Linked DNA regions of Homo sapiens. The protein of the gene in region 1 interacts with the protein of each later gene in a biochemical or structural test. Each region holds a gene or a part of one and is shown in the gene's direction. Other genes may lie near its edges.

Region 1 (15,906 bases):
GAGCAATTTCTACATTTCCCTTCCTTAATGATTGTTGTAGTTTACGTAGTTGAGATTTGTTTGTTTCCCCAAGCCTCATGTTGAAATTTGATCCCCAGTGTTGGAAGTGGGGCCTAATGGGAGTCATCTGGGTCATGGGAACAGATCCCTCCTGAATGGCTTGGTGCCTTCCTTGTAGTTCTTGCTCTAGAGCTGGTTGTTTAAAAGAGCCTGGCAGACCTCCCTTCCTTCTCTCTTGCTCACTCACTCTATTTCTCTCTCTCTGCCGTGTGATCTCTGCACAGTTGGCTCGCCTTGGTTTTCTGCCACGTGTAGAAGCTTCCTGAGGCTTCACCAGAGGCAGATGCTGGTGTTGTGCTCCTTGTATAGCCTGCAGAACTATGAGCCAAATAAACCTCTTTCCTTTGCAGATTACCCAGCCTCAAGTATTCCTTTGTAGCAACACAAAGAGACTATGACAATGATCTAATAAGAGATGAAGGTGGTCACTAAAAGAAAGCACAGCAAGGCATTTTTCAAGGAAGGAGTCAACCAAATATCTAAAACTAGCATTCTGGAGGGTTCCCACTTTATTTAAGGGTAGAACTCAGACTCTTCAGATAAGCTGATACATTGTATATTTCTTAGTTTCTTTACTGTCTTCTCTCTCCACTTCACCTGCATGGTGAAGAAACCAGGCCTGGAATCAGATTTGGAGCATGGCTCTAGTGATGTTTTTTGCATACTTTTAGTATTATTTGTGTGCCCTCCTCACTTTCTTGGAAGTTGCCGTTTGGAAATATGAGCTACTGATGAAATTGCACTCACATTTCTTTTCTTTTTCAAAAGACATATTTAATTGTGCTAAGTTGAATTGCACTTTTTAGGTCCTGTTAAAGGACCTAAAGAGTCATAGTCTGACTCTTAAAGTCAACGTCTGATCATGAAGTCAGACTACAGAAAAGGATGTGTGATAATTGAACAAGTAATCAATATGTGTTTTTGAAAAGTTTACAGTGTATTCTAAGCGTTACTTCTGAAGAGAGGGCAAGCACACATAGTGTAGTGAGTTACACTGATGACTTATGGGCAGGCACACTTGAAGGGCAGGGGGCTCCCCAGTGCCCCATCCCAGCAGCGGGGCTACTCCCTTCTGTGTGAGCCCTGTCTCTGCGTGAGAAAAACAGGGGTGTGTGGATGAGGTGACATCTGGTTTATCACAAGGGGGTTTTATTTGCCATGTACTCTGGCAAACACTATTTATCTGAACATTAAATTGGCCCCATTTTCTAAACAACTTGTTTGAGTTTCCCTGAGCCTGTTGGTAGTTCTGTTGGATAAATATGCCCTCGTCCTCGAATCTGACTAGGCCTTCTAACAGGATGGAGCATTTGGGGATCAAGAAGTAAATGTGTTTGGAGACTGTGAAAGGTATCTGAACCTTAACATTTGTATATTATAAAAAATCAAGGGGAACCATCTGCAATATAAAATGTTTTCACTTAGGTTCACTTACGGTAAGTAATATATGATCATGTATGTGAACATAGTTCATCATACGAATGTTAGTTGTGGTTATGGTTACTCACTGCATGTGGAGTTTATGCTGTGATTCCCATCTCTGCGGCAGTGTTTGTTTTTGCAGTTGGTAAGTGCTAACACATGTAAAAATAGTATCAGAGGTTGTTTAGATAGTGCTGATGTGAGGAATTCAAGGCTCCATAAAGGTCCTGCTAAAGGAATACTTACATAGGGTGAGATGCTGAATAAAATAAATGTGAAGAAAACACAAGCAAGCTTTTATGCAAAGGGAGTTTTAAAAGTGTCTATTCAAAGGATTTTGGTGAAACAGTTTCAGCTTTACTTAAATGTACTCAACTCATCATCGCATTGCATCTGTCCGCTTACATAGGAAAGTCTAGAAATTTCTGAATTGAAAACACAAACACTTTAATATAAAAGCTAGGCATGAAGTGATTTTGCAGAGTGAGAAATGACTGAGAAACCCACACTAGGAAGAGAATTCAACCAGGGTCTGACTGTATGTGAGCTTGCATTTGTTGGGAAGTCCATGTAATGTCTGAGTCAAGGAGGTGGTGTTCCAAAGTCACGTGTTTGAGAAATGGTCCTTTTCTGCTGTGGTTAAGGAAATAGCTCTGCCTCCCCAGAGCACCCAGTTATCCCCAGGGGTCCTGCTGCAGTTCAGGACCACTGCTCTGTGGGGGAATCGCTTTTTCCTTGCAGCCTCCAGGCCGTTGACTGCTTCATCCCATGCTGCTCTGAGTAGTAATGTGGAGACCTAAATGAGCAAATCATTAATGTTTAAAATGCAAAGTTTGCCTTTCAGATAAGGAATTGATTTTAACCGCTGCCTCAGTTTTCCCTGTGTCTTCCTTCTCTTTCCTGGTGGAGAGTACTGGCTGAGAGGGAGGAGCTCTCAGGCCAGCTCACTGCCACCACTCGTGGGGCTTCTCCTGCCCTCTTAGTAGAGATGAGTGGAAGGAACAGACTTTGAGTCAGAGCTGAATTTGAATTCCAACATTGAGGCTTATTGGCTCTCTGAATTTGGGGAGCTTATTCAGTTTCTTTGACCCATTTCTTTGTGATTGAAGAGGCAGTGAAACCCAGGTGATAAGAGTGTGAGCTCTGGTTCCGATCCCAGCTTCACTATACACTTGAGTGCACAGACCTGGGCCAGCTCACCTTGCATCTGAGCCTCAGTTACAGCATCTATGCAGTGGGGACAGGAATACCAGCACCTCCTGGTTTCTTTCTGAGGAATAAATGAGTCATGTATAATACATAAAGTGGTTAAACGATGCTTGACACATAGTAAGTGTTGACAAAATTTAATGTTAACTATTGTTTAGTTGTTACCATTAAAAACCTTCACTTTTTTTCTCTTTGTGAAAGCGTATTCCTTGTTGAAAGTTAAAAAATAGCAAAAAGAGTGTTCAATTCCATTGTTCCCTATTGAAATTTCTTGGTGTGTGTACATACATCCTTTCTGATCTTTTTAAAAGCATGTATGTATTTAAAAACAAGAATCATACTACATATACTTTCTGTTATGTTTAAATAATATATTTCCTATTCCATTACTGGTATAAGAGGGCAGTCGTTTGGATGATCCTAAATAACGTGAGATTACTCACTTGAGACCTGACCCTGGGAAATGGGCTTTTCCTTTTTTTAAAATGTGTTTTTGGTGGTGTTGAATTTAAAACACTAAATCTCAAACTGCAATTCACTTTAACAGATGAACGTTCAACTGTAAATATTCAGCTTGGCTTATTCATGGAATTGGATTATTTGAAAATATGCATCTCTAATTTGATATATTATGACTAAGGTAGGTGACAGTGTCTCTTAGTTAACATATTTCCTCTTTTCCCTCCAGTTTTATTTGGATCGGAATCTACTCAACTGCTTTTTCACCTGCAAGATCAAATTGGAAATTTAATTCAGTAGAGAAGATAGCTATGTCTATGAGCTTTCTGTCAGTTCAGGATAAAGAAGCTGGTTATTGGAAGAAAGAATATATCACAAAACAAATAGCATCTGTAAAAGCCGCACTAGCTGACATTCTCAAACCTGTCAACCCTTACACAGGCCTTCCAGTTAAGACCAAAGAGGCCCTCAGGTACGCAGTGTGTTCCAAAAGAGAATGATGGCATCAGCTCAAAGTATCGTGTACGTAGGACGTATGTGCAGTTTAGATTGTGTGGGACTGTCTCTAGTATTTTTGTGTGTTTTGTGCATCTATAAAATATGTATCATTTTCCTATTCCGCATAGCCTTCTGCATCTGCTGATTCAACCAACTGCAGATCAGAAATATTAGTGGGGGGGAACTTGAAACAATAATAACAGTATAAAAAAGAATACAAATAAAACCAGTACATTATACATAATAACAACAGTTTGCACAGCATTTACATTGTATTAGGTATTATAAGTAATCTCAAGATGATTTAAAGAATACGGGAGGAGGTGCATAGGTTATATGCACATACTATGCCATTTATATAAGGGACTTGAACGTCCACAGATTTTGGTATCATGGGGTTCCTAGAACCAATTTCTTGCGGAGACAGAGGGATAACTAGTAAGTAGCCTAAAGTTTTAATGAAAAGCAGAAGTAACCTACTTATCTGCTATAGTACAATAAGAATGTTCAAGGTCTCTTTTCTGGGCAGAACCTTTGTCTTATTTATATATTGCCAGTACCTGGAAAATCATGGATGTTCAGTGGGTGTTAGGTGAGGAGAAAAAGTCTAAAGAGAGTACTATTGTTGAAGTGAAAATTATACTGGGCACATTCTGAGAATTTTGACTTTGGCTTTTAAGGAACTAGATGCTTTAGAGAAGATACATGAAATTGCCTTTAGCATTTTTTTTTTTTCAATGAGGCAAACATTGTTAGTTTTTTTTTCTTTCTCCAGAATATTTGGTTTAGGTTGGGCAATTATACTGAAAGAAAAAGGTGGAAAAGAATATATCATGGAGCATGTTGATCTTTCCATAAATGACACATCAGTTACTGTTATATGGTATGGCAAAAAATGGCCATGCCTAGCATCATTGTCAACCTTAGATTTATGTGGCATGACACCAGTTTTTACCGACTGGTATAAAACTCCCACCAAACATAGGTAAGTACCAATCAGCAGAACTGTTGAGTGAGAGCATCTTATATGTAAATATTAGTTGGCATTACTTTTGTAATTAAAAAATAAGAGCAGCGTTTTTTAATTTTATCACATATTAAATGTACATTCTGCATTAATGCAGAAGAGGAAAAGAGTGCATTTTATCACATTTCTGATTAGGTCTAAATTTAACTTCCTCGTATCTTGGGGTTGTCTTTAATGGTAAAGAATGATGTTCTAGTTAACAAAATTTCCTGGATGATTGATGGCTAACCTTTGAGGTTTTTCATTTTAACCATCTTAACAGAAAGATATATGTTATCTTCCTTCTTTAGTAAATGGTATACTAATCATAGTCTAAATATGAGGAAACCAAGTCATAATTATGAGTTATTTTGTCTGCCTTCTGTTGAACTTACTAGATATGTGATCTTGTGCAAGTAACTTACTCTTTCTGTGTCTCCATTCTCTCCTCTATGAAATGGAATGATCGTTATACTGGCATAGTATTTAGCATATATGACTGCAATGAATAAGATCGATCAAAAGATATCACTATAAAATGCGTAGATCAGCTAAGTGTGCAGCACATGGGTAATGCTTAGTGAGCCCTTTACTATTCTGTTGTCAGGTGGCTTTGCACTGAGTCCATACTCACTATGAGGCTGGCATTCTGCCTTTCTGAGCAGCTCTCTCGGGCTGTCTTTTTCATCATTGATTGCTTCCTCCTAAAAGCTGGATTATGGCATGCATAGCATCCTCATCTCTGGAGCAAGCTAACATAGCTTTATATAAGATATATTGCAAATATAAAGGTAATACCTGCCTTCTCCTGCGTTGGTTTCCTGCCCTCCCATCTCCTTCACTGTCTCAGTATTCTTTGACTTTTCAGGAGTATTTACCATGTCGTTTTCTTACCATCCTTGCGTGCTGCAGTTCCACCCATTGGTTTCTCTCCTGTCTGTCCTTGCTATGGAGGATACTGTGATATCTGACATTAGTGCCTGCCATCTCTATGGAGGGACAGGGTTCTTTCATGGTTTCCCTGGATACAGACACTTTTTTTTTTTTTTGCAGCTCTGTAACTGGGGACCTTGTTTTTGGCTCCTCTCCATGGCGCCTGCTCTTTGAGCATTGTTTTAGTGATTACTGAGCTCTCTTCCCATGCTCTGAATGTAAGACTATTCAGACCTCTTGGTGCTGGCAAATCCAGGTTTTATTGTACTCTAAAAATATTCTTAATGTTATGATGAAAAATGAATTATTTTTCCTAAATATATTACTGAAGATACTTTGGAAACAGTTACCTTTTAAAAAATGGTACTTTTATTTGGATAAATCTTTGAAATTTCATACGGGATCATGAAGGAAGCCAGCTTTTTCTAATGTAGTAATTAGGCTTTATGCATTTCAAAATTACGTTTGGAGAACAAGTCCACAAACTGTACTAGTTTTGCTAAACAATATGTTACTTGGCATATCATGAAATGTTACTTACAGATATTAGGACAAACTGGCTAACATTAATTCAAATGATCCTGAAGAATTAAGTTAAATGGATAATGTTGAATTATAAAGCTCAGTTAAAGACAGTATTTCCCTGAAATGGTCATCAAGGTCAGAAGTAATAGATACTACATAGTGCCCAATGCTAGAATTCATTGGGAAAATTCATTTGATGTAATTTATTTCTGTGAAACTTCCATGGACTCCAGCCAGCCTTTGATCAACTGTGATAAACAAAACTAAAAGTGTTTTTTAGGATTTGTTTTGATCGGCACTTTTATTGCAAGTTTGTAAGTGAATGCTTTCATTGTGCAGGAATATAAATCCTTGTACGCATCTGTGTGACAGCCAAAAAGAGCCTTTGTGATTTTTATTTGGGTCTTTTTTGTTTCCTCTATGAGAAGTTTTTCAACAACAGTGAAAGCCTCATTGATGTAATCTGGATTTCCCTGTAATTTATACCTTTCTAGTCAGACTCCAAATTTTCTTCCTTGCCAGCACTTTCTGCTCTGCAGCTTGTGCTGTCCCACCCTAAATTTGTGAGAACTGCTGGGGAAACGTCAGCCTTAGTTTCTGTGTCTGTGGCTGTAAGGCCAAGCACATGAGGACTCAGCACATTCCCAGAGTCTATTTAATAAGTACCTCTACAGCCAGATTTTCAGAGAAGAAGGTTTCTCACATCCCCACCCAGCCTCCTCTATCCACATTAATGATACTAGCAGGGACTGCGATTTATTGAGCACCTGCCCCATGCCGTGTGCTCTTGTCCCCACTCAGCAGGCTGGTGATTTCATACACAAAGAACCAGCCTGTGATAGTCGCAAAGTCACTGTAGGTTGAAGCTAAGGTTTTACCTCAGGTTTCTCTGACTCCACAGTGAGGTTCCTGACCCTGCATTTATCCTCCTCCAAGTGTATTCTGCATATGCTGGGTTTATTTCTAATTTCTACATCACACACGTTCACCGACCGTCTCTCCTTACCCAGTTGTTGTTCTCTGCACAAGAAGTTATTTTGAAGAGCTGAACATGGGACTAGGGTCATGTGGCAGCTGCGGATCTGGTTTTGATGCTTCACAGTCCCTTCCACTTTGAAGCTGGACTGCAGCTGGTGTCCTTTTTAACTTATTTATTTAATGTACCTTTGAATTCCTATTGCCTGCTGGCTTGTGCCTGAGGTGCTGGGCACCAACTGTTGAATGAGATGTGGCCCCAGCTCCTCAGGGATTTCAGTCTAATGCTGTGTTAGTGTCTCCTTTATGAAAACACTGGTGATTTAGTTTAAGTTTATTTCTGATGTGTCAACTTTCACTATCTCTGAGTTATCCTTGATGATAACTGTGAAAGGCCCATCTGCTTTCCAGCCATCTCCTGAGACCACCCGTTCTTATGTCACTTGAAATAGTGTATCTTTGCTTCTGTGTTGTTTTACTCACTTGACTAGGAATACACATTGAGAGTCTACTTTAGATTGTATTGTGCTGGATTTGGAGGGAATAGAACAGGAGACAATGCTGCCACTTCATCACTTTCCTGGTCCTTCAACTTCCTCCCGGCTGGGTCATTGAGTTGACAGTAAGAGCAAGACGGAGGGGAAGAAATACCTAGTTGGCTTGGAAATCTGAATGTATCCATTTTGCCTTTTATTCATTTGTGTCCTCACCCTGCCAACATGCCACTTAGTTTGAGCACATCATTAACATGCTCTTCAAACACATTTGTGATACACTAAAGAGAATTGACAACACTATGGACAGGAAAGCTCACTTCTCTCTCTCCTTTCCTTGGCATAACGTTCAAAGACTCCGATGGCATTCTTTAATTGCAAAGTACAATCTGAGTCATTTGACCATATCTACCATGATTGGCTGTGACAGACTCATTCGGATCTTCTGCCTGCACCCTGGCCTCCTGGTGGGAGTGTGGAAGGTAAGACTTGAGTCCCTGTATGTACTGTGTCATTTCCCCATCACAATACCACATTTACTTACCATTATGTATGACTTCAAATGTAAAATCCTTTAAGCTTTTCACTAACTGCAATCCATTTTACCATCTCACCAACTTCATTTTTTCAAGCTAACATGGCCCTCTCTGTTCCACCGAGGCTGCTGTGCTGTTCTGCTATGATAGACAACTCTGCTATCTGTTGTTCTGCTGTTCTGCTATCATAGACAACAACCTCTTCCTGCCTTCATGTTTTCCTTCATGTTATTCCTTTCATGTCATGTGGCTTTCCCACTTCCAATCAGTCCACGTTCCTTCTTCTCTTCCTTTCATGCTCTTTCTCTGACAACATTTCCCTTACTATGTGTTCAGCACGCTTGTCTCCCAAGCCTGTTTCTGATCCTGTAGGTGCGGCATTGAGTGAAATCTGCTCTTCAGGGTCAGCTGTCTACGATGTTATCCTTTCTCTCTGCATAAGATTTCTCGTTTCACCAGGTCTGGCTGATATTTTAAGATAGTAGTTCACAAATCTGTTTCTGAGTTGGCGTTATGCATTAGTTTACAATGACTAGACGGGATTAAGACCCTAGCTTCAGACAACACCATCCTCATCCCTTTTCCTTAGCCAACTGTGGCCGTCACTTTTTCTTTCCCTCCTCCCCTTTCTGTGTGAAGGTGGCTTGTGGGCGAGACCGCAGCTTGCCTGCTCTGCATTCGGTGACTCGCATGCATCCAGCTTTGTTGGTTGCAGAGTTGTGAGCACTCTGGTGGCTTCGATTGTCCTCTGCCTGGCTACTGGAGAGTGGCACCTTCAAATTTACCATTTGGGGGTCACCTATGCCCATCAGTGTCAGCTGTGAATCTGGGGAGAAATGGAGGTCAGTCCCCAAATAGTCGCATTTTCTGCTATTCAACCTCATGGACAAGTGAAGAAGTTGAATCTAATCATTCCCACCACGTTGGCCAAATCAAGCAGTTACTTGCAAGAGGAACATTGTGTCAGTAAAGTTCAGTATTTGTAGAATTAATCTGGTATCTGTGAAAGTCTTTGAAAGGAATTTGAAACAGCCTGGAACTAACTGCATAGTTTCACAACTATCATATATATCTTTTGATATTTCACAAGCTCTAGGCTGTGAGTTCTTTTGGTCCTGTGTGCTCTGCATATTTGGGTGAATTGTGGTCCTGCTGTCAATATGAAATATAAGTCTTATTAGATAGTAGTAACATATTAGCAGTAATAATGCATTAGCACTGTGGTGATCTTATGTTTGTAAGAAAGTGCCTCTATCTGCAAGATGAATGTGCTGTGATCTTCACAATGATCTTGTGAAAAATGTAAGCATTTTGGTTGAAATATGTATTCTTCTCAATTAACTTTTCAGAAGGAGGAAGAACTGGCTTTTGTTATGGCAAATCTTCATTTTCATCACCTTGTGGAGAGGAGCACATTAGGCTCGGCTACTATGTATGTATTTATATGTGGGTGTGTTGAATTTTTGTACAGTAAATATAAAGTATTAGAAGTTGATGCCATCTTAATATCCTGAGAATAGCTGCAGAGATATTCTGTTTTTAATCAGTAAACACAAACCAACAGGCACAATTAGCTGTCGCTAAAATAATTGGATTATTCACGAGTACATATTTGCTTTATTTATTCTGGGTCAAGGAATTTGTACCTAGTAGGTTGTTATTTGTATGGGTAGGATAGCTTGATTACTTCAAGATGCCACTACTGTCCTTCAAGTTCTTGCTCTTATGTGAATTTTCACATCTTGTAAGGCATGTAGACTCATGGCCCTTGGGCTGAACCTGGCCTGCGGATGATTCTGTCCGGTCTGGACAGTGTGTGTCTTTTAATGAATTTGCGCGTCTTTAGGTGGCGCACAGGCTTCCCATTTCACTACAGCTCTCACCCTTTTCCTGTGGACTTAGACTCCCTTACTCATTTTTTTTTTTTTTAATTACCTGAGAAGCTCCTGAGTATTTTTGAGTTTGTCACCTTACGTAGTCATGTTTTTCTTGTTGAATAAAACTTTGTCTTGGCTTTGGGTCTGCCTGGGTGTTTGTCCTGCAGATCGGTATTCAGTGCCTTTTCCTGCTGAGCACTTTTGTCCCCTGGACACTGAGAACAACACGGAGGGCAGAGTGGCTTTTATAGAGTGGCCATGCTGGGATCAGCTGCAGAAACATGTGCACCCGTGCTGGGCGGTGGCTGCCTACAGAACTCACATCATTGCCTGTTTTTATAGAAGTTGGTAAAAGTAACATTGAGCAGTCTTTTAAGTTCACAGTATTGAAGATTATAGGGAATCCTATGGAGTTTCATTTGTAGGAGGTAGTGCTTTGATACAGATGGTAATTTTTTAAAAAGTATTTTCAAACCAAGAATTTTATCCCTGGTGTTGACAAATTTGTATGTTTCTTTTGTTTTGCTTTTCAGCCCCTATGAACTGCCTCCACATAGCCCCTTTTTGGATGATAGCCCCGAGTATGGACTGCACGGCTACCAACTCCATGTTGATCTGCACAGCGGTGGGGTTTTCTACCTATGTGGTACATTTCGCAATCTCTTCACCAAGAGAGGTGAAATTGATTGAGTTTTTATTTCATTATGAAATTAAAGGTTGAGGTGAGGGAACCAATTTTGATGTCCGAGTTAAGAATTGCCCTCACTGGTCACTTTATAATCTTTTGGCACCAGTATCCTCCCAGACCCGTGTGTCATCCCAGGGCTTGTGAAAGTCCTCACTGGACCGAGTCTCTTCAGAACTGGCTCTGTCTCCTTCACCACCATCACTCTCAATGCCACCTTCTGGGGGTAGCCCCTACTCATCTTCTCTACTGATGCTTCCTTATTATTTTTCCATGCTCTCTGCTTTCCCCAGACTTCTTCCCTTCTTTCTTAAAGGAATGTGGTAAATTTGCCAGCAGGGCCCGTGCCGCTCCAGGATGAGAGTAAAGAGAAACCAGCCTTTCTCCTCTACGTACTGCATCACTGTTTGCCACACCTACCAAAGCCAGGACAGAGGCTGGGGCAGACAGAGGAAAGGAGGGAGCTTACGCCAAGCAGGAAAAACGAGGGAGTGGAGAATGCCCCATTCTCACTTATCTGATTATTTCCTTTTGGTTTCATTCTACTGTAGCCTGTAAACTTGGAGTTTCATGTAAGGACTTGCTTAGATTCAAGTTTAACATTTCTGGTAAAAATATTTTAAAAGGGAAGTTATGTACTTCATTTTGCATTATATTGAGAGGTATATAATGTCAGGTTGTCCCATTATTAGTAATGCCTGGTTTTATCATCTGGTTAAGATGGTGACCACTAGATATCTTCATTATTAAAAGTATTCTTTTCCAAATATCCTGGTCCTCCAAAGTCTTTCATCTAGTGGACTTGACACTCATTAATGATATGTGCCTAAATCAAATATTTTGTTTAAAAATGTTGATTTTCTAATTATGTCACTATTTCTATATTTATCAACTGAGATTTTGTAAAGAACTTTCTCTTATCACCTGGGTGAACTTCTATAAAGGCAGAGCAAATGCTTAATTCTTTCCTTTTAACTGCCAATTTTCAGATGAAGAAATTGATGTTACAGAGCACAAGGGGCTTGCTGCCTAATGTGCTGGAACCCAATACTGTGACAGCAGGTTTTTGAGAAAGGAAAAGCTTTTTATGGCTGGCCCACTGATAAGGAGACAGGAGTCCAGCTCAAATCTGTCTCCTCATGCTGGCTTTAATGCAGTAATTTTATTAGAAAAGGTGTAGGGAGTGGATTCTGGGATTAGTAGGTGATCGGTGGAAGGAAAGGGAGGTCTGGAAAGTCCTCAGGCATGGCGCAGTTACCTCTTCATGCCCTCGTAGGTCACTTGCAAATTCAGGAGGAGTTAATATGAAACATGTGGTGGGAATTCAGGCTGTGATGTCAGAAAACTCCATCTGTGAAAACTCCAGTTGGCCATATTGGTTCCGACTGATTTCAGCCAGTTTTATCTTACAAGTGGAGGGCGTTTTATTATTTTAGTAAGTTGCCTCTTTTCTTATCTGCCATCTTGCAAACTCAAGCATTTCTGTTAGTCATTAGCTTCTTTAACTCTGGAGCATGGTTTCACTGAGGCACTAGTCATCTCCTGTGGTGGAAGAAATGTGAGCTCTTCTTCTTTCCTCCTCGCCCCCACCCTTGTTTAATGTCACTTTGGACTCTTGGATATTTATTTATTTAATAATTTATAGTCAGTTATAGACATTTCTTTTTGAAGTTACTTGGTCGGTGGGATCTGCTTTGGGCTGCTTCTGTGTCCTGTAGATATCCTCTTTGTCTTTGAGTCTTCCTTGCTTTTTGGCTCAGGAAGATTGCTAGGTTTTCTCGCGTTTGTTGGCATTTTTATCAGAATTATTCAATTCCACATATTAACCTGAGGTATAGTAACATCTATGTTGTTGAATTGTTCCATCCAAGAATGTGGAACATCTTTCAGTTTGTTTAAAAATACTTTTATGTCTTTGAGGAGTGTTTCAGAATTTTCTTCATGCTAGTTTTGCACATTTCTTGTTAAGATATTTATGAAGTATTTAATTCTTGTTACTTCTCTTTCGTTTTATCTTCCAGCTGTTTTGTGATTTCTTTGTGAGGTTTTGGTCTCATAGAATGAATTGGGAAGTATTCTTTCCTCTTGGATTTTTTGGAGGATTTTGCATAGAATTGGTAGTATTTCTTCCTTGTTTGGTAGAATTCATCCAAGCCTGGACCTTTCTTTATGAGAAGACTTTTAACTACAGTTTCCTTTTCTTTCAAAGAGATGGAGCTATTTAGGTTATCCATTTCTTCTTGAGTCAGCTGTGGTATTTTTTGTCTTTTAAGGAATTTGTCCATTTTATCTAAGTTGCTGACTTTATTGGCATAAAGTTCTTCGTAATAGTCCCTTATTATCTTTTTCATGTCTATAGAATCTAGTGACATGATGTGATTCCTGATATTGGTAATTCATGTATTTCTGTATTTCTTTTTTTTCCTGATCAGTGTGGCTGGAAGTTTATCAATTTTATTCATCTTCTCAGATACCTAACTTTTGGTTTTATTGCCTTTTTTTCTGTATTATTTTGTTTTGTATTTCATTGATTTGCATGTTGATTTCTATTCTTTCTACTTTTTTTCTGCTTATGTTGTAATTTTCTGTTTTTCTAGTTTCTAAAGGGAGAAGTGGAAATTATTGATTTGAGAACTTTCATTTTATCATATTGAGACATTTGGTGCTATGAACTTCCACCTAAGTATTGCTTTAGTGGCATCCCACAAAATCTGATATGTTTTATTTCATTTTCATTCACTTTAAAATACTTTCTAATTTCCTTTTTATTTCTTCTTTGATATATGGGTTAGATAGAAGTGTGTAATATAGTTTCCAAATATCTGAGGATTTTCTAGAGATCTTTCTGTTACTGAGTTCTAATTTAACTCAATTGTGGTCAGGAAATATGCTTTGTATTACTTGAATTTTTAAAAAGTGACTGAAATTTGTTGTATGTTCCAGAATATGATCTATTTTGGTATATGTTCCATGTGTACTTGAGAAGAATGTGTTCTGCTGTTGTTGAGTAGAGTGTTCGAAAATATTAATTAGGTAATACCGGTTGAGAGAGTTGATATTTTTTGCCTACTTGTTTTATCAGTTAGAGAGAGGTGTTGAGATCTCCAACTCTGACAGTGAATTTGTGTACTTTTTTGCTGTTTTATCAGTTTTTGCCATGTGTATTTTGAAGCTCTGTTATATTCATGAACACTGGAGACTATGATATCCCTTTGACTAAGTACACACTGTGTACATTGTTGAGGGTGCCCCCAGTGTGCCCTAGTGCACACCAAGGGTACAAACGCTGTGCCTTCTATGCCAGTATTAGCGGAGAACTGAGTCTCTGCTCTCCATGGCTGCAGCCCTCATGGAGTGTTGAATTCGGCATCTAGCCTGACCTGGTGCCACCACTGTGGGCAGCTGGCCTGGGAAATGGGGGAACAAGATGCGATTTCCACAGAGATGAGGTGAGATGGCTGCCTGGTCCCAGCCACAGCTGCTCCTCAGAGCTCTCCTTCCCCTTTAAACCTTGTGAACCGTTACAGAGCCCTGTGTGTCCCCACTCTGCCTCCCCCACCTCAGCCCACACTGCTGCCATCCCCTCTCTGGCCTTATCCTTTTCTGTCCTCCCCACTCTAGCTCCGCTGCAGCTTTAGTGAGTTCCTCTCTGTTCCTTGACTGTATCAGGCTTTCTGTGGCCTCACATTCTTGGTGTGCCCCTCCTGCCTGCAGTGTTACTGCCCCAGATCTTAGCGTGGGTCCTGGGGGTCATGTCTCTCTGAGCCTGATTCACTGACAGCTTCTCAGTGAGGCTTTACCCACTTTGCTACACCTAGAAGCCCTCACTCTCCCCATTTCTCACCTGCCTGCCTCAATTTTTCTTCATAGCACTGTCTATCACACTGAGTTTACTTATTTAGGTAGTTTATATGTTTAAGAGAAGTAACTTCCATGGGGCAGTATTTTGGTTTATTTTGTTCAGGACTGTCATGGCACATAGTAGGCTTGCACATAAATATCACAAAGAGAATGGGTGGCTCCCAAAGGCCATGCAGTTGAGGGGCTCTTAGATAGACTCTTCTGGGCCTGTTATCTTAAAGCTCTTTCTGTTTCTTTAGCTAAAGGATTCTCAGCCGCATTGGCCAGGATCTTTTTGGTCAAAGCTCTTGCAGTTCTCTGTTGCCTCTAGAGGAAAAGATGCAGCTTCAGGATGCTGCAGAGCAGAGCTGCAGGCTGGCCCTTCTTGTGGGACCAAAGCAAGGCGACAGCGAGGGCCTGAGCCTCTCCACCAGGAGTGGGAAGCCCTGCCCTCATCCCGCCTCCCAGGGCCTGGGGAGGCCCCAGGAGGCTGGTGGGGCCTATTTCCTAGGCCACTGTGCTGTTCCAGAGCTGCCACTGCTGGTCTTCCACCACTGCCTTGATTCCTTTTCTCTTACAACCCAGAGGAAGGGCATCAGAGTTCCCCTTCTAAAGTACATGACTGTGTACTTCTCTCTGGAAATAAAAAGCCTCACAAATTCAACGTCTGGCAGAGTACTTTCTACTTTTGTACCTAGGGTAGGTTACTTGGCTACACAAATAAAAATGAAATTTGTGTTTAGGTACTTAGTGTCTATGTCATCCTCTCATTACAAGGCAAACATCAGGAACTTGTGCCATTTCTCATCTGAGATGGCTTATAAGACATAGTTTTTGCAGAATACCAACTGTTCTATAAAAATTGCTTCCAAGACACTAATTATATTACTTTCAGTTTTAAAAATGTTTATTTTGAAATAATTTTACATTGTACAGAGAACTCCTGTACAGTCTTTATACAGAATTTATTCATTTATAACATTATTTGCCATTAAAAAATCATTTTTCTTTCTCTTTCTCTCTCTCTCTCTCTGTGTATAATGTTAATAGACCCCTTGATGTTTATACAACATGTGTGTGTGTATATACACATATATATATATATGTGTATATATGTGTATATACGCAGGTCATAAAATCGTCAAGGGGAATATTAACATTCTGAATCTCAAAGTGCCGGGATTACAAGCATGAGCCACCACACCCTGGCCTACCTTTATGTGATGTGGTGTGGTGGCTCATGTTTGTACCTAGCAATTTGAAAGGCTGAGGCAGGCAGATCACTTCAGCCCAGAAGTTCCAGACCAGCCTGGGCATCATGGTGAAACCCGGCCTCTACAAAAAAATACAAAAATTAGCTGGGCATGATTACATGCACCTGTAGTCT
Region 2 (15,906 bases), on another chromosome or scaffold:
TTTTGCTTACTGCTTTTTTGCAACCGTGTGCAGCCTTCTCCCCTCCCACTCTTCCCTTTGAGTTGCTGTAACCTTTGATCAGTATTTGACTTATTCTCTACCATAGTATGGTCAACAGACTTATCTTTTTTCTTTGGACTCTGAAACACTCTGATATTTGAACTTGAATTTGGGATGTATTCCAAGAATGTTTTCATTGTATAATGTGGATTACTTTCAGTAAAAGATCTCAGAGTAGAGGTTTGTATTGCTTCTTGTTTTGTGATTGCTCTTCGGATAATTTGAAGTTTTTCTATAGCTTTCAATGACAGTATTCTGCCACCTGACCCCAGCAATAACTATTTAATTATCCCTCCAAGCTGAGGTGCTTTCTTGCTGGGTTTCTTTTATAAACACAGACATAGTGTCTTTAGAGAATACTTTTTTTTTTTTTTTTTTACAGGATAGTTCATAGAATTTTAAAAGAATCTTCAGAAATGGAATTTTAAAAGAATCTTCAGAAATGGCCTTTGCCACCTTTTTTACAACCAAAATTAAGATTCAGGCAAGTTGGCTAGTACTGATTAAGAAAGAGGTTAAAAGGGGTTCTAGAGAAGAGAAAGTCCCATGGAGTGGAATTGGCAGTCTTGACACAGCGGAGAAAAAAAATCTAGGCTTCAGGGAAAGGCGTTTTCTTGTTGTTATTTCTGTACCCTGTTGTGCAAGGTGTCTTAGCTCCGCTGGGCCGAGGCTTTTCAAAGCTGAAATATCCTCTCATGAGTCAGATTCTGTTTGGCAAGAAGGGGATGTTCTTCAGACAGCTGCCAAAGAGCTCTTTTGTTAGTGCCAACTTCAAACAGCTTGGCTCCAAATGAGTTGTCTAGGAATTGCAAAGCCCCCAGATGGGAGCTGTGAAAGTCCTTGGTTTTTAGTTGAGGATCTTAACATTTCCATGACTGTTTTGAACAAATTTACACAATTTCTCGATTTCCAAATATCACAATCCCTATTCCTATCTCCATTTTCTTCTAGCAGTTCTCTGACTTAGTGATGAGGTTATAGAATTAAATCTGTTTTTGTTCTCTTCATTCAAACCTCCATACACTCTATATAGCATTTAGCATTCTTTAGATATGTGTAAGGGAGTGAGGGAGATTCTTTGCAGTATTTAAAGCTGAATGCCTGGAGTTGATAATTTGGCCTTTTTTCCTGACACTTTTACTTGTAAGTAGACACTGTTTGTCTATTTACAAGATCTTCCTGAAGTTTCACCTTTAAAAGCAGAGTGTTGAAAGTTCTGAGTTCTTACAATGAAGTTATATATTAAAGGCTTAGCTTATATGGCAGATAATACATGTGTTCTGTCTTCCCTCTCTTAAGAAAACCTATAATAGGCCGGGCATGCTGGCTCACGCCTGTAATCCCAGCACTTTGGGAGGCCGAGGCAGGTGGATCACGAGGTCAGGAGTTTGAGACCAGCCTGGCCAACACAGTGAAACCCCATCTCTACTAAAAATACAAAAATTAGCTGGGCATGGTGGCGGGCACCTGTAATCCCAGCTACTTGGGAGGCTGAGGCAGAAGAATCACTTGAACCCGGGAGGTGGAGGTTGCAGTGAGCCGAGATTGTGCCACTGCACTCCAGCCTGGGCAACAGAACTAGACTCCATCTCAAAAAAAAAAAAAAAAAAAGAGAAAAGGAAACCTATAATATGTAAGACACCTTACCCTGTGTTTCGGTACATGATACATCTTCATCTTTTGTATTCTTTTTTTTTCTTTTTTTAATTAAAAAAAATTGAGATGGGATTCTCTCCATGTTTCCCAGGCTGGTCTCTAATTCCTGGGCTTAAGGGATCCTCCCGCCTCAGCCTCCTGAAGTGCAGGGATTATAGGCGTGAGCCATCATGCCCAGCCATCTTCTGTATTCTTGAAAGAAGATTTTAGGGAGATATCTGTAAAAAGAACAGAATGGATTTTAAAATTCAATTTAATGTACTAAATTTAAAGTTTATGTAGCTTCTGACTGAAGTTGATGAAGTATATTTTTCTAATGTATGTATATAGTTATTCAAAGTATGAATTCATAGTATTTTACTTAAATTTTGTTGTCTTTGTGTTTCAGTATGAAAACCCATGGACAATCCCGAATATGTTGTCAATGACGAGAATTGGCTTGGCCCCAGTTCTGGGCTATTTGATTATTGAAGAAGATTTTAATATTGCACTAGGAGTTTTTGCTTTAGCTGGACTAACAGATTTGGTAAGTTGTAAATGCACTCCCAGTTTGCTCTCCTTCCAAATCCTGGTCTGTACTACTAAACCGAAATAGCATAGCCTTAGCCTGCTTTTCCTTGGGAGGAAAACCTCAAGATGAATTTGACGTGGTACTTTTTGTGAGGACTTTGTCTTTAGCATCTATATGGGATTTTTTTTTTTTTTTTTCATATGATTTCAAGGAGGAAGCGAAAGTTGTAGGGAAGTAAAGGAGGGGATACTTTGTACTCTTGGTTTTTAAGAGTGAAAGAAACACCCTTAGAAATTTCCAAAGAGCTGAGTGCTTGCTTTAGGGATAGAAATAAAGGAGAGGAGATCTGAGATGACTTTTCTATGTATTGTGGTAAAGAGGAATACTCAGATCTGCAAAAAAAAGTTGGTTTTCCTAGTGGAGAGGGAAACTGGACCAGTTGTTATGACCCAGGGAACTGGGATATGACCAGAAGCATGTAGAAGTCATAGCTTTGCTCAGGTTTCATGCTAGCAGAAGGCTGTAGGTACCCCCACAGATTTATTTTCTGATCTCTGCTCTACACCCCTCTGACTGCCCTGCAGAATACTCTGCTCTGGGCTGACAATTGGACGTCCTTCCTTCATTCTCCTCCCTCAGCAGATGGACAAAGAAGAGGAGCTCTCCTTGATACTACATTGTTAGTTTTGATAGAGGAGAGGAGGATTTATTCAGATGATCTCAAATTAGAACTGGAAAATAATTTTATAACAGAAGGCTACATTAAATAGGCTTTTGTGGACTGGCTAGCCATCATCATGTATGACATTATTTGTATTACCAACTTTATTTCAAAAAAGTTTCGAAATGCATTATAAAACTGGCTGGACACAGTGGCTTACACTTGTAATTCCAGTGCTTTGAGAGGTCAGGAGTTTGAGATCAACCTGCACAACATAGCAAGAGCCTATCTCTACAAAAAATTTAAAAATTAGCTGGGCATGGTGGCATACGCCTGCAGTCCTAGGTACTCAGGAGGCTGAGGCAGGAGGATTGCTTGAGCTCAGGAGTTCAAGGCTGCAGTGAGCTATGATCGCACCACTGTACTCTAGCCTGGGTGACAGAGCAAGAACTTGTCTCTTAAAAAAAAAAAAAGGAAAAACTTCATGCTGTATAAAAACATAGTTGAGGGAAGTGTGGAAAAGATGGAGGAATAATTTTAAACCAGGGCAGAGTTAGCAGGAGAAATAGATACATTATATTCTTGTACAAGGTTGGTCTGAGATCTATATGAGCATCCAGACAGGCGGTGCTTTGGTGCCTCTTCAAACTAATTTATGTTTGAAAAGCTTTGCTCAATATTTATTGAGTGAGAATCGAGAGAAACTAGTTTTATATTAATAAAAGTTGTATGCCGTCTTTCTTTGTAACATCAGCTGTTCTCTTCGAGGTTCATAGAAACAAAATTCCACCTTCCTAGTAGCAGTAGCATTGGTGGGCAACATAAAATTAACAGAAGATTTTGGAGTGCAGACAAAAGAGAGCATTTGCATTGTTACATGGCATTTCCAAACCTGCTTCAAACATAGCCTCCCAAATTGGCTTTACCTCTCTTTTTCCAGAGTTTAGCGTCTACTAATATTTGTCACTACCTCTTCCCATTCTCACAATCTTTCTCCTTTTCTTTTGTCCCTGCTTTTTTTTTTTTTTTTTTTTTTTTTTTTTTTTTTGGGGAGACTGACTCTGTCGCCCAGGCTGGAGTGCAGTGGCGTGATGTCGGCTCACTGCAGCCTCTGCCTCTTGGGTTCCAGCAGTTCTCCTGCCTCAGCCTCCTGGGTAGCTGGGATTACTGGCATGCACCACCATGCCTGGCTAATTTTTGTATTTTTAGTAGATATGGGGTTTCATCATGTTGGCCAGGCTGGTCTCGAGCTCCTGACCTCAGGTAATCCACCCACCTCGGCCTCCCTCGGCCTGGGATTACAGGTGTGAGCCACCACACCTGGCCTGTCCCTTCTTTTATCCCAAAGCCTGCATTCATTGTTAATATTATCTCCAAGTCTGTCAAAGGCCATTATACTGATAACAGTTTTTTTTTAACATAACAGACAAGATCTTTTTCAGTTACTGTAGTCTCCTTTTTTGTCTGCTACGTTTTTTTTTTTCTTGTAAGCTGCCACATGAGATTGCAGTATTCATTGAATGTTAGAGAGGCCCCATTAACATTTTACTAAATATATAAGATGATGTTTGTGGAAACCTAAGTTAACTGGTGCCACATTTCACATTTGTTCCATGGAGATTTTAGTGCCTTTCAATTGGCCACTGGGAGGTGGTCGGACTCATCAGTTTAAGCCAGGGAACGACAAAGTCTGATTGCGTTGTGTGTGGAAAATGGATTATAGACAGCTAAGAGTGGAAGCTGAGTAAGTGGTTAGGGGGCTGACCATGATCCAGCAAGAGTGGAAGCAGAGTAACTGGTTAGGGGCTGGCCGTGTTCCATGGCAGCCGTGGTGGGAGCTTAGACTGGGGTTGGAGTTTGGAGTTGGAGAGAAGTGTGTGGGTTTGAGATATATTTTAAAGACAGAAGTAATATGTGGATGGATTAGATATGGAGTGAGAGTGGGAGGAGTCAAATATGAATACTAGGGACTTACTTTAAAAAAAAAATTCTCTTCTAAAACCAGGTTCATGGAAATGACATTTTCTGTGATGGGCAACACTTGAGTAGGGCAGAGTTTAAGGGAGAATACTAAGAATTCTGTTGCCTATCCACATAGAAGTATCAGTTGGGCAGTTTAGTAGTTTGGAGTTGGAGGAAGTCATCGTTACAGAGAGAGAAATTTGGGAGCTGTCAGATATAGATGGTTGGATCTGGGTAAAATCATCCAGGCTGAGGTAACAGGAATGAAGGGTCAGAGAAATGAGCAACAAGTAAAGCACCAGAAAAGAAGCCAGTCAGGAACCCTGGGAAGGAATAGCTGGCGAGGAAGAAAATTAGGCAGTGAGATTTCCCAGAAAGTGGAGAAAGTGCTTCAGTTGTGTCGAGGTCAGGTACTCTAAAAATGCGGAGTTCCTTGGTGACCTTTATGAGCCTCACCTCTGGAGGGGTGGGGACGATTGGAGTGGGTCGATGAACACATGTGAGATGGTAATGACATTGGACGTTCCTTTGAAGCAGTTTTGCTTTGTAGGGGGATAGAGAAATAGGATCACAGAAGGGTCTTTTAAAAAGATATATACTGGGGAATTATATCTATGTGTATATAGATAGATAGATATAAAATCCTATATATAAAAATATATGCTGGAGTATATGTATATACTGGGGAATTTTTGTTTGGCCTTTTTTTTTTTTTTTTTGAGATAAATCTCGTGTTGCCCAGGTTGGCCTTGAACTCCTGGCTTCAAACGATCCTCCCACCTCAGCCTTCCAAGTAGCTGGGACTATAGGTGTGCCACTGTGCCCAGTGAATTTTTGTTGTTAGTTAACTGATTAATTAAATGATCAGGTAGAAAGATTAAATGAAAGGGAGAGATGGATGATGCAAGGGGAGATGGGGAAGAAGGGAGGCAGGTCACAGAAGGTGAGAGGGCATGGGAACGGATGAAGGAAGGCAGAGAGAATGAATGGATGCAGGTAGGTGGGGGATTTGATGATGGGAATATGAGGATGGGCTGACTACGGTTTTCTTTTTCCTTAAGGAAAATACAGACATGACCATGAGCGAGAGGGATGGAGTTAGGTCTGAGGTGAGAGCAGAGACAGTGTGGAAGAGACAGTGTGAAAAGAGAGGGTAAATATGGTAAACAAGTGTGGGATTGCTAGGCAGTATTGGGTGCCCATGGGAGATTTGTGGTCATCAGTTTGAAGTGAGACCAGTCTTCCCATTTGTGTGTTTTCCTTAAGCACTATTCAGCTCTTAGGTGCAGGCCCAGAGTACATGGAGAGTTGCTTTTAAGCAGTGTTGAAGGAGAGTGGAGTGAAGGGGAGTTACAGATGTTTATAAAGGAATGATGTTGATGACCTTGGAATCTAGTGTGGATTAGAGGAATAGTGAAGATGAGAGGGTGATGATGGCGAAAAAGTGAAAGGTTAAGTTCCCTGAGGTCAGAAACTGAACTAAACCTGATCTTCCAAGGTCCCAGCTCCCCAGGCTAGGTACTTTTCTGTTCGTATGCTTAAGAAGGAAATAGATTTTTTCAGTTGCAATAGCAATAGCTAGTAACTGCTTTTTTTGAGGATTTACTAAGTGCTGAGTGCTGAACAAGTATTAATCACATTGTGTGCTGAAGACAACCACCCCTTTGAGGTAGGTAATTTATCTCTGTTTTACAGATGAGGAAACTAAGGCTTAGTCAGGCCAAATAACTTATCCAAGATCACACAGCTACTAAGTGGCAGAGCCAGGACTTGAACAGCTTCTGTTCTGCTACAAAGACCACATTTTTTTTTACCACGGTCCTGGACTACCGCTGTCTCCTCTAACTCATTGGAATACTTGAGATATGGACAACTTACTTGTTCTTTAAAATGAACCATGATTAATTGCGTCTAAATTAATCTTTTTTCCCCTTAGAAATAGTATTAGAGAACTCAAACATTTGTTGAAACTTGAAGTTAAATGAGTAAAAGCCAGGAAGGGACTTGGATAAACCAGAAAATATCTGCCTTGTTTAATGTGAATAGACAGTACTTGATTTCAGTCCATTTTGTGGCCCCAGAGTGGCCAGACCGCTCCCTTCTCAAGTTAGGATGGAGACCTGGGTTTTTATGGGAAGAATTGAATACTTACATGTTGATAACTAATTACAGTTTTTAAAAGCTCTGATAGGTCAAACAGAACCAGCTTACAGGCTCCATTTGGCCCACTAGCAACTAGATGTGACTTATGCTTTAAATGGTTTATTTTTAATCACAATAATATAAAAATAAATAATTTAAGTATCAGAATTTTAACTAGGCCAGGTAGAGAGGATTGAGTTTTCTATTCAAATGTAGGTAATGCAGATACAGTCAGAGTATGGAATAAACAGTGGTATTGAGCAAAATGAGTTGAAAAACAGAAAAATGGTAAGTTTTAACAGAGTTGGATTATATTATCCTAGTCCAGGCTCTGCCGTTCATGCTTTCTTTGAGTTTTCTTTGGGTTCTTTATAGCTGTAAATACATCACTAACCGTATCTCTAAATGTGTATTTGGGTTCATCCCACAAAGGGGCCTTGTGAAAATACCGAGAAATAACCAGAAGGACTTGAGGGGGAAAGAAAATAAATGTGCATTTATTTTAAGACCAGTTGCTAATTTAAAAGCGAAATGTATACCAGCAAAAGAATGAGAATGTTTGGGGGTAAGAAACAGAAGACATTTTGTTAACATTTTATGAGAGTATAATTGTTATTCTGGTATATCTTAAGCTTCAGAATATCTGCTTTGTTCCTGTTATGACATTTATATATATAAAAAAAAACTTCTATTTTCAGTTGGATGGATTTATTGCTCGAAACTGGGCCAATCAAAGATCAGCTTTGGGAAGTGCTCTTGATCCACTTGCTGATAAAATACTTATCAGTATCTTATATGTTAGCTTGACCTATGCAGATCTTATTCCAGGTAAGAACGCGTCATGCGTACTTTTGAATAGCACAGGGAAGAATGACATTAGTCAGCTTAGGATTTCTCTTGAGAGACAAATAATTTTTGTTCCAAAAATATAGTTTTCAACTTTAAACTGTTTCCCTAATTTTAAACTGTTGAACTGTTTTGTCAAACTACTTGTGGATTTTAGAATTTATGTCCTTGTTTTACTAGTAAAATCAGTTGCTTTCCTAGTAAGATTGTTTAAAATTAAAATTGAATAAATATTTCACAGTGCCAATTCATATTACTCTGAAATTTTTTGGTGATACATTATGTATTTTTAGTGCCTAGCTTTTCAAAAGCAATTTAGTTTTCCTACGTTTATTATCTTTATTAATATCGTTTAATCATAAGTGAGAACTCTGAAATTCTGAAGATGTCTATAAAATTTCACATTATGTAGACCCTATTATGCAATTTTTAAATCATATATATAGTTTGTACATTATATGAATACTTTTTCTGATAAGATTTCATGATTTTTTTGCTTTGTATTTTGCATGTGCTTTTCTGATTGTTCATTTTCTTCTTCAGTCGTATTTCTCAGTTTTTCTCCCTCAGACCAAGTTAAACTGTTTTTTTCCCAAGAGCTAGGAATCATATCTGATCACACTGGGACTTCCCTTCACTGTCAGTCTAAGAGTTTGCATTTTTGAGGTTTAGGAAAAGGGAAAAAAAAGGAAGAAAGAAAGAAATTGTATCTGAGAACAAAGAAGCTGCCACATGGTCCCTCGGTATCATGTTATTATTGACACTTGGTAGAAAGAAGTATAGTGGCATTTCAGTCTAGTCTCCCCCAACTGGAAATTATTTTTCTTTCTGATTTTTAGTCTTTTAAGTTCTCGTACCAAAATAAAAAATAAATTGGACTAATGTTTACTTTTATGTGCTTCTTTGAAAGTTAGAATTGAGGTGTGTATGTGATTGGGGAATGGGGGTGTGTGTGTGTGTGTGTGTGAGTTTTCTTGCCTAGGCTGGTCTCGAACTTCTGGGATCAAGTGATCCTCCCACCTCGGCCTCCCAAAGTGATGGGACTATTGGCTTGAATCACCTTGCTTGGCCCCTGCCATTTTTTCAAAGTTACATTGTATTTTGATGTAGTATTTTACAAAGGTTGGCCAGTCATTTTGCTATTGAACATAGAAATTGTTTCCAGGTTTTTTGGAATTATGGGTAATGTTGCTGTGAGTTTTACTTATATGATTGGTGTAGGTTGCTTTCCAAGCTGAGACTTCCCTTCACTGGCAATCTTAGAGTTTCCATTTTCTTTCTTCTGTGTTGAGTCTGTTTTTCCAGGCTCCCATGTCTTCCTTTGCTTTAAGTTACTCCTTTTCTCCAGTTGTTTTCTGTAGAAGGATGGAGTGTGGCAGCCAGATTTTTAGAGGTCTTAGACATCTCAGTGTCTCTATTTTGTCTTCCATACATGATTGACAGTTGAAGTAGGCATCACTTTTTTTTATCTTTTATCTTTTTTTCTTTTCTTTTTCTTTTTGAGACAGGGTCTCACTCTGTGACCCAGGCTGGAGTGCAGTGGTGCAATCTCAGCTCATTGCAGCCTTAACCTCCCAGCTCAAGCAGTCCTCTGACCTCAGCCTCCCAAGAACCTACCACCATGTGCATCACCACGCCTGGCTAATATTTGTACTTTTTGTAGATATAGGGTTTTACCACGTTGCCCAGGCTGGAGGCATAATTTTTAAACTGCAGATGATTTTAATTCAGAATTGTGAAGACCCTCTTCCATAGACTTGGAGATTCCAACTTGCTACGGAACAGTCTCTTATCATTTGGATACCTTTTCCTTTACATGGGATTGTGTTTAGTATTGGAAAGCTTTTAGGATTTTAAGAAAATGTGATTCCTAATTGATGTTTTCTTTAAAAAGTTATCTCTCTTAATTCATTTTCTAATGCTTATATGGCTACCCAGTTATCCTAGCACTTTTTATAGAAAAATTTGTATTTTTCAGACTCAGTGCAAGGTAATTTCTAAGTTGTTTTCTTCCCCATTGTTTGTCTGTCTTTGCATCAGTGGCATTCTTCTTATTGCTTTGCTAAAAGTCTTGATATCCAGTAGAGTGAGTCCTTCCACCTTGGACATTCTTAGCCCTTTCCATTTGTTTCCATTTGTTACAAATTTTAGAATCAGCTTTTCTAAGAATCAGCAATTTTCCAGAGAAAAATCTGTTTGGATTTTGATTGGGATTGCAATGAACTTATGATCTGTTTGGAGGAATTTGCATCTTTACAATGTTAAGTCTTCCAGTCCAGTATCTACTCCATTGAGGTCTGCTTTAATATCTCTCAAAGTTTTATAGTTCTCTCCAGAAAGATAATAAACACTTTTGTTAGACTTATTCCTAAGTACATGATAGTTCTTGGTGCTTTTATAAATGGTAGCTTTTAAATTTCATTTTCTGGCCGGGCACAATGGCTTGCCCCTGTAATCGCAGCACTTTGGGGGGCTGAGGTGGGCGGATCACTTGAGATTAGGAGTTCAAGAGTAGCCTGGCCAACATGGCGAAACCCTGTCTACTAAAAATACAACAATTAGCCATATGTGGTGGCACGTGCCTGTAATCCCAGCTACTCAGGAGGCTGAGGCATGAGAATATCTTGAACCTGGGAGGCAGAGGTTGCAATGAGCCGAGATTATACCACTGCACTCCAGCCCGAGTGATGGAGTGAGACTCTGTCCTCAAAAAAAAAAAAAAAAAAAAATTATTTTCTTATAACTCCATGTTGATATGAAAAAATCAGTACTGTTTCTAATGTTGATTGTTATGTCTAGCGAAACTTGCTAACTTGTATTCTAACAATATACATATAAATTTGCTTGGATTTTTTACATGCTTATTTATGTCTTGTATGTAATTAATGACAACGTATTTCTTCTTTTCCAGTCCTTTTACCCTTTGTTTCTTTTACTTGCCTTACTGCACTGAGTAGTACAGTGTTGGCAAGGAGTGGTGTCAATGTCTTATTCCCAACCTCATAGAAAAGCCTTTAGCGTTTCACTATTAAAGATGATGTTTGCTGTTGGTTTTTGTCAGTATCCTTTTTCAAGTTAAGAAGTTCACTTCTGTTGGGAGTTTAAGAGTTTTTCTCACAATTGGGTACTGAATTTTTTTGTGTTTTTTGTAGAGATGCGGTTTTGCTATGTTGCTCATGCTGATCTTGAACTCTTGGCCTCCCAAAGTTCTGGGATTATAAGCATAAGCCACCACCCCTGGCCTGGATATTAAATTTTATCAAACTCCTTTTGTGTATTCCTATGGTCATATCATTTTTCCCTTTAGCTGTTCATGTGTGGTGAATTACACATATTAATGCAATATTAGTTCTAATGTTAAAACAAGCTGCAATTCCTGGTATAAATCCAACATTGCCATGATATATTATGAAGAGATTGCTGGATTTGGCTTGCTAATATTTTGTGGAAGATTTCAAATTTTAATTCATGAGATTGGCTTGGAATTCTTCATATATTCTTGTTAGGTTTTCATATCAAATTTATAACTAGCCTCATAAAATGAATTGGGGACTTTTTTTTTTCTTCCATTCTTGGAAGATGTTTGATTATGAATATTTCTACTTAAATGTTTGGTAGAATCTGTTAAAGCCGTTGAGGCCTGGAGTTTTCTTTAGGGCAGAGTTTTAAAATAGGTAATTCATTTTCTTTAATTGTTACGGGATGATTCAGGTTTAAAGTACATCTTTTTTTTTAACCTTCAACCAACTCACTCCATATTACACCTTTTGACCAGTTTTTAAGTTGTGATGTTTTTCTAGGAATTTGTCCATTTGGTCTACATTATAAAAAATGTATCATACGGTGTTTATGGTATCCTCATTAACTTTATTTATTTACTTACTACTCCTTGTGGAGCAGGGCTACCCTATAGGCAGTGGGCCCAGAATAGCTCTCATTAACCTTTTGATGTCTGTAGGATATGTAGTAATGTCCTCCTTTTCCTCTTGATTATTTTTTGTCCCTTTTTTTTTTTTTTTTTTCATCTTTTTTGCCAGAGGTTTGTCAGTTTTATGAATCTTTTGAAAGAATCAGCTTTGGGTTTTGTCAAGCCTCTCTGATCTGTTGTTTACTACTTCATTACATCTTGTAGTTTTATTTTTTTTCTTCTTCAGGTTTTCTTTGCTGTTCTTTTTCGAAATTCTTTTTTTTTTTTTTTTTTTGAGTGCAGTGGCATGATCTCAGCTCACTGCAACCTCTGCCTCCTGGGTTCATGTGATTCTCCTGCCTCAGCCTCCTGAGTAGCTAGGATTACAGGTGTGTGCCACCATACTTGGCTAGTTTTTTTGTATTTTTAGTAGAGACGGAGTTTCACCATGTTGGCCAGGCTGGCCTCGAACTCCTCACCTCAGGTGATCCTGAAGTGATCCTGACCTTAGGTGCCTCTACCTCTCAAAGTGCTGGGATTACAGGTGTGAGCCACCATGCCTGGCTCTAAATTCTTTAGATCAATTCTGTCTAGAAATAAAATGAAGATTCTTATGTAATTAAAAATTTTTAGTAGTTTTTAAAAAAGGAAACATGAAAATTGATATATTTTAAGTAATCCACTATATCAAAAATATTGTCATTTTAACATGTAATCAATAAATTAATGAGAATTTTTTTCCTATACGCCTTCATAGTCTAGTGTGTGTTTTGAGCAGTGCAGCTATAAGTGGATACCTAACTTGTTTTTCAGCTTTTCTTTTCTAAAGATTGCATATAAGACTGTATATGTTCCTCTAAGTGTCACTTTCATTGCATCTCCTATGTTGGTTTTAGTGTGTCATTGTCCAGTATACAATATTTTCCTATTTCCATTATTATTCTTTCATTGACCTGTTAGGTTAAAAATAAATATATCTTAATTTGTTGCCATTTTTGTGGGGATTTTTTTAGTTACCTTTTTGTTACAATTTCAGTCATAATAACCTTGTGTTCAGAGAACATGCTCTGTGATTTCAGCCTTTCAGCCCACTACTGTCAGATTTTATAAATATTCCATGAATACTTGAAATGAATTGAAATGAATGTATATTCTGCAGTTCTTGGGTATGATGTTCTTCATAGGTCTATTAGATCAAGTTTTTAATCCTGCTTTTTTTTTTTTTGAGACGGAGTCTTGCTCTGTCGCCCAGGCTGGAGTGCAGTGGCGCAATCTTGGCTCACTGCAAGCTCTGCCTCCTGGGTTCACGCCATTCTCCTACCTCAGCCTCCCGAGTAGCTGGGACTACAGGTGCCTGCCACCACGCCCGGCTAATTTTTTGTATTTTTTTTTTTTTTTAGTAGAGGCGGGGTTTCACTGTGTTAGCCAGGATGGTCTCGATCTCCTGACCTCATGATCCGCCCTCCTCTGCCTCCCGAAGTGCTGGGATTACAGGCGTGAGCCACCGCGCCCGGCCTAATCCTGCTTTTTAAGTCTTCTCTTTCTTCACTGACTGTTCTTTTGCTTTTGGTTTGTTCAGCAGTTAGAGTTTCCTACTGTATGTCTGGTTCTCCAGTATTTGTCTCTGTAGTTGTGATTTTGTTTTGTATCTTTTTTTTTTTTTTTTTTTGAGACGGAGTCTCGCTCTGTCTCCCAGGCTAGAGTCCCATGGCACCATCTCGGCTCACTGCAGCCTCTGCCACCTGGGTCCAAGTGATTCTCCTACCTCAGTCTCCTGACTAGCTGGAATTACAGGTGCGTGCCACCATGCCCTGCTAATTTTTGTATTTTTAGTAGAGACGGGGTTTCACCATGTTGGCCAGGCTGGTCTTGAACCCCAGACCTCAAGTGATCTGCCCGCCTCGGCCTCCCAAAGTGCTGGGATTATGGGTGTGAGCCTCTGCACCCGGCCTGCTTTGTATGTCTTGAAGTTATGCTGTTAAAGTGAATATGAATTAGAATTGTTACGTCTTCTTGGTGAAGTGAATGTTTTGTTATGAAGTGACCCTCTATAGCTGTAGTAATGATTTTTACCTTAAAATATATTTTGTGGGTTCTTAAGCTCTGCTGGCTTGCTTTTGGTAGTGTTTGCATGATAAATGTTTTACCTTCTACATTTCTGCATCTTTTTAGATATCACTTGTAAATAACATATTTATGTAAATATATATGTAAATAACATATTTTAAATAAAACCCATTTTGTCTTAACCCATATAGTCTTTTAACAGAAGCATTTAACCCATTAATATTTATTGTGATTGATAGATGTTTCATTCAGTCTTTTATTTTACTTGAAGTATTTTATTTGGCACATATGTTTTGTCCTTTTTAGTATTTTTAAATTATATTTTCTTTCACTCTACTAGTTTGAAAGTTTTACACGGTTTCCATCCAGTTTTCCTCCAAGTTAAAACATTTATCTTTATAAAAATATGATCTTAATAATTCTGTACTCATTCTGGGCATGGGAGGCACCTTAGAATTCTTGAACTCCAATTATTTCTCTCAGCTTAGGCTACTGTTGTCATACTTTTATATATTTCTTAAACTCACAGATATTGTTTATACAATGTTCATTTAAATTTATCTTCATATTTATTACTTTTTGCTAGTCTGTCTTGTTTGATGTATTTTAGACCTCCCATCTGAGATCATTTTCCTTTTGTCTGAAGTATGTTCTTTTGGAATTATTTTTAATGTAGGTGTACTGGTAAATTCTTTTTCTCTGAAAATGTTTTTATTTTGCCTTTATTCTTGAAGAATATTTTTGTTATGTATAGAATTCCAAGTTGGTATTAGTTTTTCTTAGCATGTTTAAGGTATTGCTCAGTCATCTTCTTCCATTGTTGATAATAAGAAATCAGCTGTTAATCCATTGCTTTTTTTTTTTTTTTTTTTTCAAGACAGGGTCTTGCTCTGTCACCCAGGCTGGAGTGCAGTGGTGTGATCTCGGCTCACTGCATTCTCTGCCTCCCGGGCTCAAGCAGTCCTCCTACCTCAGCCTTCTGAGTAGCTGGGACTACAGGTGTGTGCCACCATGCCCATCTCATTTTTATATGGTTTTTAGAGATGGAGTTTTGCCTGTTGCCCAGGCTGGTCTTGAACTTTTGAGCTCAAGCAATCCACCCACCTTGGCCTTCCAAAGCGCTCTGATTACAGGCAAGAGCCACTGCACCCGGCCATGTTGCTTTTTTTGAAGGCAATTTTGCTTTCTTGTGGCTATTTTTAAGATTTTCTTTGTGTTTTGTTTTTCTCAGTTTCACAATAATATTTCTTGTTGCAAGTTTCTGTTTTATTCTGCTTGGGATTTATTGGACTTTTCAATCTGTGCATTATATCTTGAAGTCAGTGCTAGAAAATTCTCAGCCACAATCTCTTTAAATGTTGTTGTTGTGTATTCTTTCTTTTCTTTTGGGGCTACAGTATACCTATGTTAGACGTTCTCCCCGTATCCATTACATCTCAGTGGGTTTTTTCTGTGTTAGCTCATTTTATCTTTTTGAGCTCCATTCTGGCTGTACTAATGGGTTTACTATTTTTCATTTCATTACCTGTCTCTGTAGCTGTACCAAATCTATTTAATCTTACTTTATTGTATTCTGTAACTATAGAACTTCTATTTTATTCTTTTTTGGACTTGCTAAGTTGTCTTTTATGGTTTTTAGTTCCATGCTGAAGTTTTCAGTATTGACTTATCCCCTTGAACATGAGTTGTTTTATAGACTCTGATGATTCAAAAATCTTACATCTTTTGGTAGTCTCTTTCATTTGTTCACTGTTTCTGTTGATTCTTACTCATGGTATTTTAATTCTTCGTTATTTTTTTTCTGTTTAGATACATTCTTTGAAAAATAATTTGGAGGAATATTTGATTCTTATGAACAAGGCATTACTCACCAGAGAAGATTTTTTTGTTCTACCAGGTGCCTAGGAATGCTAACAGTCTGGGACCACATAGACCACCAGGTGATGAGACAATCCTGGGAGTCCTGTTTTACTTTGGCCCATCTTTTCTCCCAACCCTGTGGGAATAGTCATTCATATCCTAGCTGCAGGCTAGAAGGTGGTTTATCAGAGCCCAACTTCGAGGGCTCTGGGCTTTAGCTACTGTCACCCCATC

The links.
Region 2: the proteins of FBXO15 (region 1) and CRLS1 form a complex in vitro, tested with the Homo sapiens proteins (one study listed by BioGRID).

The regions. Positions count from the first base shown.
Region 1 is NC_000018.10:74,118,132-74,134,037, reverse strand, and holds part of FBXO15 (F-box only protein 15), read left to right. Parts: intron 1-3,379; coding exon 3,380-3,622; intron 3,623-4,423; coding exon 4,424-4,633; intron 4,634-5,261; coding exon of another isoform or gene 5,262-5,385; exon of another isoform or gene 5,386-7,929; intron 7,930-7,936; coding exon 7,937-8,063; intron 8,064-9,466; coding exon 9,467-9,549; intron 9,550-10,527; coding exon 10,528-10,670; intron 10,671-11,018; coding exon of another isoform or gene 11,019-11,200; exon of another isoform or gene 11,201-11,446; intron 11,447-15,906. UniProt on the Homo sapiens protein: Substrate-recognition component of the SCF (SKP1-CUL1-F-box protein)-type E3 ubiquitin ligase complex.
Region 2 is NC_000020.11:6,007,671-6,023,576, forward strand, and holds part of CRLS1 (cardiolipin synthase (CMP-forming)), read left to right. Parts: intron 1-2,104; coding exon 2,105-2,242; intron 2,243-7,690; coding exon 7,691-7,820; intron 7,821-15,621; exon of another isoform or gene 15,622-15,709; coding exon of another isoform or gene 15,710-15,717; exon of another isoform or gene 15,718-15,752; intron 15,753-15,906. UniProt on the Homo sapiens protein: Catalyzes the synthesis of cardiolipin (CL) (diphosphatidylglycerol) by specifically transferring a phosphatidyl group from CDP-diacylglycerol to phosphatidylglycerol (PG).